Linked DNA regions of Homo sapiens: region 1 is linked to region 2. Evidence: fine-mapped expression QTL. A gene starts in region 2. The other region holds a variant in brackets. All regions are shown on one strand. Distances are between the middles of the regions. Region 1 overlaps FAH (fumarylacetoacetate hydrolase). Region 2 holds the start of FAH (fumarylacetoacetate hydrolase).

Region 1 (4,382 bases), 26 kb before region 2:
CACACCAGTCTCTTTAGGTTTGAATTTGGATGAGAAGTCCCTCCTGCACCCAGAGAGAAAGGCTACGAGGAAGACAGAGTTGTGAGATACACCCACCTCGGGCCTGAAATCTCTTCTCGAGGCTGAGCTGAGGGCCCTTGGGGCTGTGTGGGGAGCAGGGATGCTCTGCGTGGGCAGCCCTCAGTGCAGCCAGATACTCACCGGCCCGCTGATGGTCCCAGAAGCCAGGAGGTCCCCCGGCCGCAGGTTGCAGCCGTTGACAGAGTGGTGAGTGAGCTGCTGCAGCATCGTCCAGTACATGTACTGCAGGCAATGGACGCGAGGTGGAATGAGCAGCGGCAGGCTTAGCCTAGCATCCCGGAGGCAGCTGGGCACAGCCTGCCCTGCTCACGACCGCCTTCCCTGGCCTTTCCCCGGTCCCCAGCTCCCCCAGCCAGCTCTCTCCAGTCCCTTATAGTAAGGACACATTGTCCTCCTGGGGAGCTGCCCAGAGACCTCCCCCAAGCTCTTCCATCTCCTTCACAAACTCCAACCTCAGCTCCTCTGCTACCTCAAGCCCACACTGACCACCTTCTCCAAGCAGCATCCCCTAAGGGCTGACCTTACTGCTCAGTCCCTCAGCCTGCAACATGCCCTTGTGTACAACACTCCACTCTGCCCTGGGAACACCCTCCAGTCCCGTATTGGGAGAATCTAAGTCCACACCACAGCAGAGGCTTCTCGTGAGCAAAGCCCTCGCTCCCATTCTCCCATGCCGGGCCTTGGGATGGACACTGGGCAATGGAGCTGAACGATTCAAACACGATGTCAGGGCAGGCCAAGGAGCGAGGGAGAGCTGTGGGCGGTCAGGCTGTGGGCAGAGGGGGCCAAGGCACCACGTGCCCACCGAGACGCTCAGATGCAATGCACGCCCATGCCTGTCCCAGGCCACAGCTTCTCACATTGCCATTCCTACAGCCACACATCCCGGCATAGGAAACCCAAAAGATGGATTCTTGCCCACGAGCCCCTGCAAGGAGGCCCCTTAATTTCTTCTTACTAGCCCTAAGGAGCCCAGAATAATATTAAATTAGAAGGGAAATTAGGGAAACTAGAAATAGTTCAATGATTCAGAGGATATTCAAAAGGCCAAGAAACAAATGAACCATAAACATATGACTAACATGCCCAGCTGCATTAGTCATTAGGGAAATGCAAACTGAAGTCACAATCCCAGGCACGGTTTGAACGAAAAGGCAAACACCACCAGAGCTGACGAGGATGTGGAGCAGGCAAAATGCTTACATGCTGCTAGTGGGAGTATATACTGGTATAACCACTTCAAAAAACTGTTTGGAAGTACCCCTAGGCTGAGTCTATGTGTACTCTATGACCCAGCAAGCCTATTACTGGATATACACTCAATAGAAATGTGCACATATGTGCACCAAAAGGTGTGTACTAAAATGTTCACAGTAACTCTGTGATAGCCAAAAACAACGGAAACAACCAAATGTCCATCGATTGTGGAATTGATGTGACTTACAAAATAAGTCAGTTGGCCGGGCGCAGTGGCTCATGCCTGTAATCCCAGCACTTTGGGAGGCTGAGGCGGGCGGATCACAAGGTCAGGAGATCGAGACCATCCTGGCTAACATGGTGAAACCCCATCTCCACTAAAAATACAAAAAAAAAAATTAGCCGGGCGTGGTGGCGGGCACCTGTAGTCCCAGCTACCCGGGAGGCTGAGGCAGGAGAATGGCATGAACCCAGGAGGCGGAGTTTGCAGTGAGCCGAGATCGCGCCACTGCACTCCAGCCTGGGCAACGAGCGAGACTCCATCTCAAAAAAAAAAAAAAATTAAGTCAGTTGTGGAATATTTATACAGTGCAACACTATAAGGCAATGAGAAAAATGAGCTGTCACTGCAAAGAGCAACAGGGTTGAATCTCACA[G/A]ATCTAACACTAAAACAAAGATGCCAGCTACAAAAGAATACATGCTACTTTATGATGCCATTTCTATAAAACTGAAAAACAGAAAAAAAATAATACATGGTAGCAGAGGTCAGGAGAGGAGTGACCTTTGCTGGAGGGAGTGATGAAGTGACCTGGAGGGCCCCACGGGGCTGCTGAGGTGCTGGAAATTTTCCATTTCTGATCTGGGTGCTGGTTGCACAGGGATGTTCATTTTAGGAAAATTCTTCAAGCTGTACATGTATAATATGCACTTTTTTTAATTTTTATTTTTTGAAATAGGGTCTTGCTCTGTCACGCATGCTGGAATGCAGTGGTGTGATCATGGCTCACTGCAGCCTCGACCTCCTGGGCTCAAGCGATCCTCCTGCCTTAGCCTCCCAAGTAGCCGGGACCACAGGTGCATGCTACCACGCCCGGCTAATTTTTTTACTTTTTGCAGAGACAAGGTCTCATTATGTTGCCCAGGCTGGTCTCAAACTCCTAGGCTTAAGCGATCCTCCCACTTTGGCCTCCCAAAGTGCTGGGATTACAGTAATGTGTGCATTTTTATCTATGTATATTATGCTTCAATTAAAAGTTCACTTAAAAAATAAGTCACTCTCATCAATACAGCCCCTGGCAGGACAGGATAAACCAGGAACTAGACCTTTACAGGAACACCTATTTTCCCCCAAGAAAATCACTGGCCACATTTATGCAGCCTCTATCTCGAGAGAACTCTGTGACCCCATGGCCACTCCTAAAAGAGACAGGCCATGGAAGCTCCAGGCCCACAGGCTGACCCATCATCATATCCCAAAAGGAATGCTCTCCTCCTGTTCCTGCCAGGAAGAAAAGTCTCTCTTTCCCTCAATTCTAAAAAGCAGTCTGATCAGCGTCAAAGCTTACCTTAAAATTGGACTTGCATATGGTAGCCGCCTGGCTCATTCCTTCTCCTGTTGGAAAGAAAAGCAATATTGATGAAAACTTAATTCCATGCATCAGGGAGGAAAATAAAAAAAGAATTGTTCTGTGGCTGAAGCTTCCCATTGTCCAACATGATTTCACTTAGAGTCTGTGAAACAATTAGCTCCTAGGACATCAGAGCTGGGAGGTCCAGGGTTGGCCAATACATGCACACAAGTCATCACTTCCTCCTCCCACGCCTACAGCAGGCAGCATTAATTGATCACAGCACATGTTTGCTCTGAGTCCATATGTAGCCTCAGAATCCTTCTTAACACAGTGATCCTGGCACCCGCAAATCCACTAAAGATAGTGTGCCATTTGAAAGCTACTTGTGACCTTTGATCAAGGATAACCTGCTGTCCCCTCAGGAGTCCTCTGGATAGCTGGGTCATCTGTCCCCTGCCGAGCTCCTCCAGTGATGGGCAGTGTGCTACTTCACAACGTACTAAACAATATTTACTAAACATCTACTACATGCAAGGTACCGGGCTGTTGCCGTTCCACTTCTGAACAGCACTAATAAGTAGAAAGCTCCTCTGCTCCCTCAAAACCTGGCTTCCTCCCTTGGTCCTAACTTCCCCTCTGAGGTGGCACAGAACAGGTGTGCTCTTCAGCCATGCGAGGTCTGGGTCTGCCAAGGCTGCTCCTCCCCAGACCCTTTCGCCCAGATCCCAACTCAGAACATCAGAACTGCAAATGCAGGACTACATCTCTGGACACTGTGCTTTCTGGATAATCTTGTCCCTTTTCTACCAGTGGCCTCCCCCGGGCGGGCAGGTTCACCTCTAGGCAGCCAGGAATACTGAGGACAAAACCAGATAGAAAGTATACTCCAAGCACGCATTGTGGGTGGCAGGAGGCCAACCTAGAACTTGTGACACACTTGGATTGAGTCCCAGCCCTGCCATTAGCCAGGTAGGTGGCTCGGGGTGAATCCTTTTCCTCTCTGAGCCTCAGCTTCCTGACCTGGAACCTGAAAGAGCGGGCCCAGCACAGCTTCCCAGAGGGCCCTGGGCAGCCAGGAGGCTCTCTGTGACAGCTCTTTCTCCATGGAGCATCCTGCTCCCATGGCGACAGCTCCTGCAGTGTACTGCGCCTCCTGACAGGAACCACCTCATGAAGGGCCGAGACCCTGGAACTGACAGTGAGACAGACATGGCAAAGCCTGGAGTGTACAGACAGAGCAGACAGAAGAAAGAAATGGAGCTGGCCGGGCATGGTGGCTCACGCCTGTAATCCCAGCACTTTGGAAGGCCTAGGTGGGTAGACCACCTAAGGTTAGGAGTTCAAGACCATCCTGACCAACATGAAGAAACCCCATCTCTACTAAAAATACAAAATTAGCCAGGCATGGTGGCGCATGCCTGTAATCCCAGCTACACAGGAGGCTGAGGCAGAAGACTCGCTTGAACCCAGGGGCAGAGGTTGTGGTGAGCCAAGATCGCACCATTGCACTCCAGCCTGGGCAAGAAGAGTGAA
Region 2 (4,384 bases):
ATGGCAGGATTCATTGTTATTCCACTCAAATTAGGAAAGGCTGACTGCTGACATGGGGGAAGGGAGGTTTTGCCTTGGCAACTAGTCTTGCCTGGCAAGGCAGCCATCACGGTTGGAATGTCCAATGCCTGCAGAGAAAGCTTCAGAAGAGGCTTGTTCAGCTGGAAGGCCAAAGGGCCAACTCTCCACCCCCAGCACTGTATCAGAGGACAGCGGAATGGGGCTCTCTCTTCCAGACATCTGTAGTGGCTGCCCTGCACATTCTGATGTTGAAACAGCGGGACATGGTGTCTGAAAACACCTAGCCACACTCTAACGGATATTAATTCGATTCCCCTGAGAAAGCAAGTCAGAGCTCCCTACTGGGGTGTGCCTGCCTCTCACAAATGTTTCTGTCTAATGGATTTGTGCTCCCAGGAAAGGTGAGGGAGGACACATCTGCCGAGGGCAAAGTGTTTGAGGAGGGCAGAGGGAGGGCTCTGTCTGCAGAAAGGTTGTTGGCCATCACAAGTTAAGATTTAATGTGCCTCAGATTGTGTCCTCCAGGGGATTGAGTGTCCACTTTCTGTATCCTTGCAACATCTGGTCAGCCCGGCCAGATGTGAAACCACAAGTTGACTCTTCTAGACCAAAGCACTTACCGCAGACAGGCCCACAAAAGGCCAGCCACTTGCATCCAATGACAAGCCATGGGGGAAGGAGGGAACCCCACTTTCCAAGAAGAAGCCAACTGCCAGGCCCCTCGTTTAGCAAACATTTCCTGATTCTGGGGTTCTATGGCTTACAGAGATGAATCAGGAGTTTACCTTTAAAGTTGGGAGCAGAAATCTAAGCCAAAAATATCATCAACAAATCCAAGGGAATCTGCTTTTCCAACCTAGGGAACCTCTTATTATCTATTTGCTGATAAACCCCCAGTTTTCAAATACTTCTTTCTACCAATCAGACTACACTGACTTAGTCAAAGTTTGTTTCCCTGCCCTCTTTCTTCTGATCAGTAGGGGAATGCCAGGGAGCCCACACCAGGAGCTGAAAGAATTTCAGCTATAGGCAGAGACACTTGCCATCTTAGATCTCACAACTCTAAGCCAAGAAACGCGCGTGCCCCTCTGACCTGCTACGCATACCGGGTTATCATTTCCCGGGTTCTAGGGTTAGGGGCTATCCAGCGAGATGAACCACCAGCCCTGACCTGGCCTCTTGGGCGAGAGAAACACACCGCAACCACCTCGGAGTAGGCAGCATGCCTGTGTGCTGCAGCTTCCGGTAACAGAATCCTGCTTGCTCTGCTTGTCTGGGAGAGTGACACGATTCATTTCATTTTGCATTTAATTCTCAGCAAACCTGCGGACAATGAGGCTGAAAAGTTAAACAACGTGCACAGCTAGAAAGTTACGAGGCGGGACTCGAGCCCATAGGCACTCTCACGGAACGAATCTTAAGAGAAAAATGGCACAAGCCTCCATCCCGCCCCTCATTCCACTCCATTCCACTCCACTCCACTCCACTCCACTCCACTCCACTCCACTCCCTCCCCGCGCCCGGACGCCAAAGCCCCACTGCTCACGTCGCCTCTGGTCGAGAAGACGCCGTAGGGCAGGTTGTGGATGGGGAAGTCGGAATCCTCGGCCACCGGGATGAAGGACATGCTGAAGAGCACCCGGCACGGCTGCGGGCCTAAGGTGGCGTGCGGAGAGCAGGACTGAACTCGGCCGCTGTGGTCAGGCCCGGCCCCGCCCCCCTGCCCGCCCCCACGGCCTGTCCGGGTGACACAGCAGGGACCCCGGAGGCTCCTACCTGACTTTTGGTCTCACCGTGAACACCCCGCCCCCGAACCCCGAGCCCTGCCCCTCCCCCCTACCCTGACCCCCGCCAGCTCCAGGTCCTCCACAGTCTCGCCCGCCCTTCCAGAGCCCCGCCCCGCCCCTGGCCCCGCCCCCGTGGGCCTCAGGTCCTCCAGTCTCTCCTCCCTCCCTGAGCCCCGCCCCTCCCCTTGCCCCGACCCCGCGAGCCCCAGGTCCTCCACAGTCTCACCCTCCCTCCCTGAGCCCCGCCCCTCCCCTCGCCCCGCCCCTCCCCTCGCCCCGCCTTGCAAGCCCCAGGTCATCCAGTCTCTCCCTCCCTCCCTGAGCCCCGCCCCTCCCCTGGCCCGGGTACCCGAGAGTCCCAGGCCCTCCAGTCTTGCCTCACTCCCCGAGCCCCGCCCCTCCCCTGGCCCCGCCCCCGTCCTGATCCCCGCCCTGTCCGCGAGTCCACGTGGGGGAGATCTGGTTCCAGCCCCCGCTCGGGGCAGCTAGCTGGTCCTACCGAGAGCAAACCCCAGCTTAGCATTTAAGGCTCTGCCCTGCATGACTCCAGCCTCGCTCGCCCCGGCTGCTGCCCTGCTCTTCAGCTCAACAGAACTCTTGTCCGCTTCCTGGAAACACTTTCTCCCCAAGAGCTGCTCCCTGAGCTTCAGAAGAACACCCAGTCGCGTCCTTTCTGCCTTCATACCATGATGCTCCGTCCAGCTATGACACTTCCACTTGTATGTCAGAGAAGGGGACAGTTAGGCCTGTTTGGAAGGCTTCAATTAATGAGAATTAATATTCTAAAAAATATAACTCACCTGTTTCACATGCCAGTAGTAAAATGACGTTGACAAGATGCTCAACCTTGGACAAGTTACTTAAACTTTCTCTACCTCAGCTTCCTTCTCTGTATAATGTTGATGATAATAGTTCCTACTTCACAAAGTTGATATAAGAATGGAATGAATTAATATTTGTGAAGCACCTAGAATAGTGCCTGGCATATACAGGTTATGTGTGTGTGGAAAGAGAGAGAAGGGAGGGAAAAAGAGGAAAGGAGGGGAGGGGGATAAAGGAAAGGAAAGATAAAAGAGAAATAGGAGAAGAGAGAGAGGGAGAAAGAAAAGAAGGAAGACAGGAAAGAAGGGAAAGGCAGACTATCTTAGGGTGGGTTCAAGGTGTTATCTAATCACTCATGTGCAGTCAGCTGCAGTTTTTTGAGACCATGCCACAGCCAGGACACTTGGAACACACCGGAGAGTGTGTCGTTGTGTTATTGTTGGTGTGAATGATTCAGGTACACTTTTAAACAGCCAGGATGCCGGCTGAAATCTAGAAAAGTAGACGATAGTCTGGGCAAGGGTTCCCTGAAGATCCTTGAGGAATGTGACACAGTGACTGCTGAGTTAGGGAGGCTGCTCCGCATTTCAGCTTAGGGAGAAGAGGCTGGAAGATGGCAGGATAATGTGAGCTAAGTGGGCTTGAAACCAGACGGCTTGAGAGGAGCGAGTACGGCAAGCAGGGCCCGCTGTTGAGCCCCCCTTCCTAGCCCCTGAGATCACTCTGGTGCCTGTCCACCAGGCGTGACCAGTGATCATCACCCAGTAAGGAGTGTAATCTGGGCACAGCCTCTTGGCTCTCATCTCCTGCCCTGAGTGGCTCTGCCAAGGACTGGCTTCAGTTCTTTTAAGTCAGCCCTGGGGAGGGAATGAAGGTGGTCTGATTTGTTCTGGTAGGTTCCTGAAAGAGGAAAAGAAGAGGAGAGTATCCCAACTTGGTGGCCTTATAAAGAGGCATTCCAGGGAGCACTTGATACCTGCCTAATTCAAGCTAGTCCTCAGCTGCAACGCAATGAATTATTTCCACGTTCTGTAGTTGCCCTGCCCCTTCCCATTAAAACCACGAGCTTTCTTATTCCATGTGCAACTCTGTCAATACCCAGCAAAACACCTGGCACAGAATAGGTTCTCCATAAATACATGTCATTAATATAAAACTGTTGACCAAAAGGAAATGAAGCAATAACTAATAAGCCCATGCCCTATGCCAGGCCATGGGGATACACCAGCAACTCACATCTTTAATTCCTGTTTTTATGGAGCATGTGTTGTGTGGGGGATGCTAGGCCAGGAGCTTCTACTGAATACATACAAGTTAACAAAAGCCTAAATGATAAAACCCTTGGAGAAAGAAAACCAAAGTATTTTAGGGAAAGGACATGGGGCAGATGTATGTGTAGGAAAGGGTGTGGGGATGAGATGGCTAAAGAGGGAGTAAGATTTCATAGTTTTAAAATAGACTTAACCAACCCACTAATTATACACAGTGTCTGAAAACGCCAAAGCTGTTCTCTATTTGGAAAACAGCATTTGAAATAACTTGCAAGTATACTATATTTTTTCTTTCTCATTTTTTGGAAGAGAATGTGTTGGCCACGTATATCACAACAATTATTTAAAAAGAATTTTAAAACAAAGAGATTGCCCATAATCCCACCAATGTAGTCTTCTCATTTTCATGTTTTTTTTTCATTCCATTTGTATGCACATGGCTTTTCCATCCTTATAAACTTTACATAGATGCAATTTTTCAGT

What was found. PIP is the estimated chance that this variant, and not a neighbour inherited with it, causes the effect.
Region 1: its variant is fine-mapped to the expression of FAH in atrial appendage (GTEx, PIP above 0.99). The same link has a PIP of 0.9 or more in left ventricle.

What each region holds. Positions count from the first base shown.
Region 1 is chr15:80,176,045-80,180,426 of GRCh38, reverse strand. FAH (fumarylacetoacetate hydrolase) reads right to left here. Exons shown (of 14, transcript NM_000137.4): 11 at 2,844-2,890; 12 at 202-303. Among named protein-coding and RNA genes, the nearest start is that of FAH, 25 kb to the right of the region's middle. The variant G/A (reference allele first, on the strand shown) is at 1,935.
Region 2 is chr15:80,150,319-80,154,702 of GRCh38, reverse strand. FAH (fumarylacetoacetate hydrolase) reads right to left here and starts at 1,704. Exons shown (of 14, transcript NM_000137.4): 1 at 1,568-1,704. The coding sequence starts at 1,648. RefSeq lists a silencer at 1,716-2,275.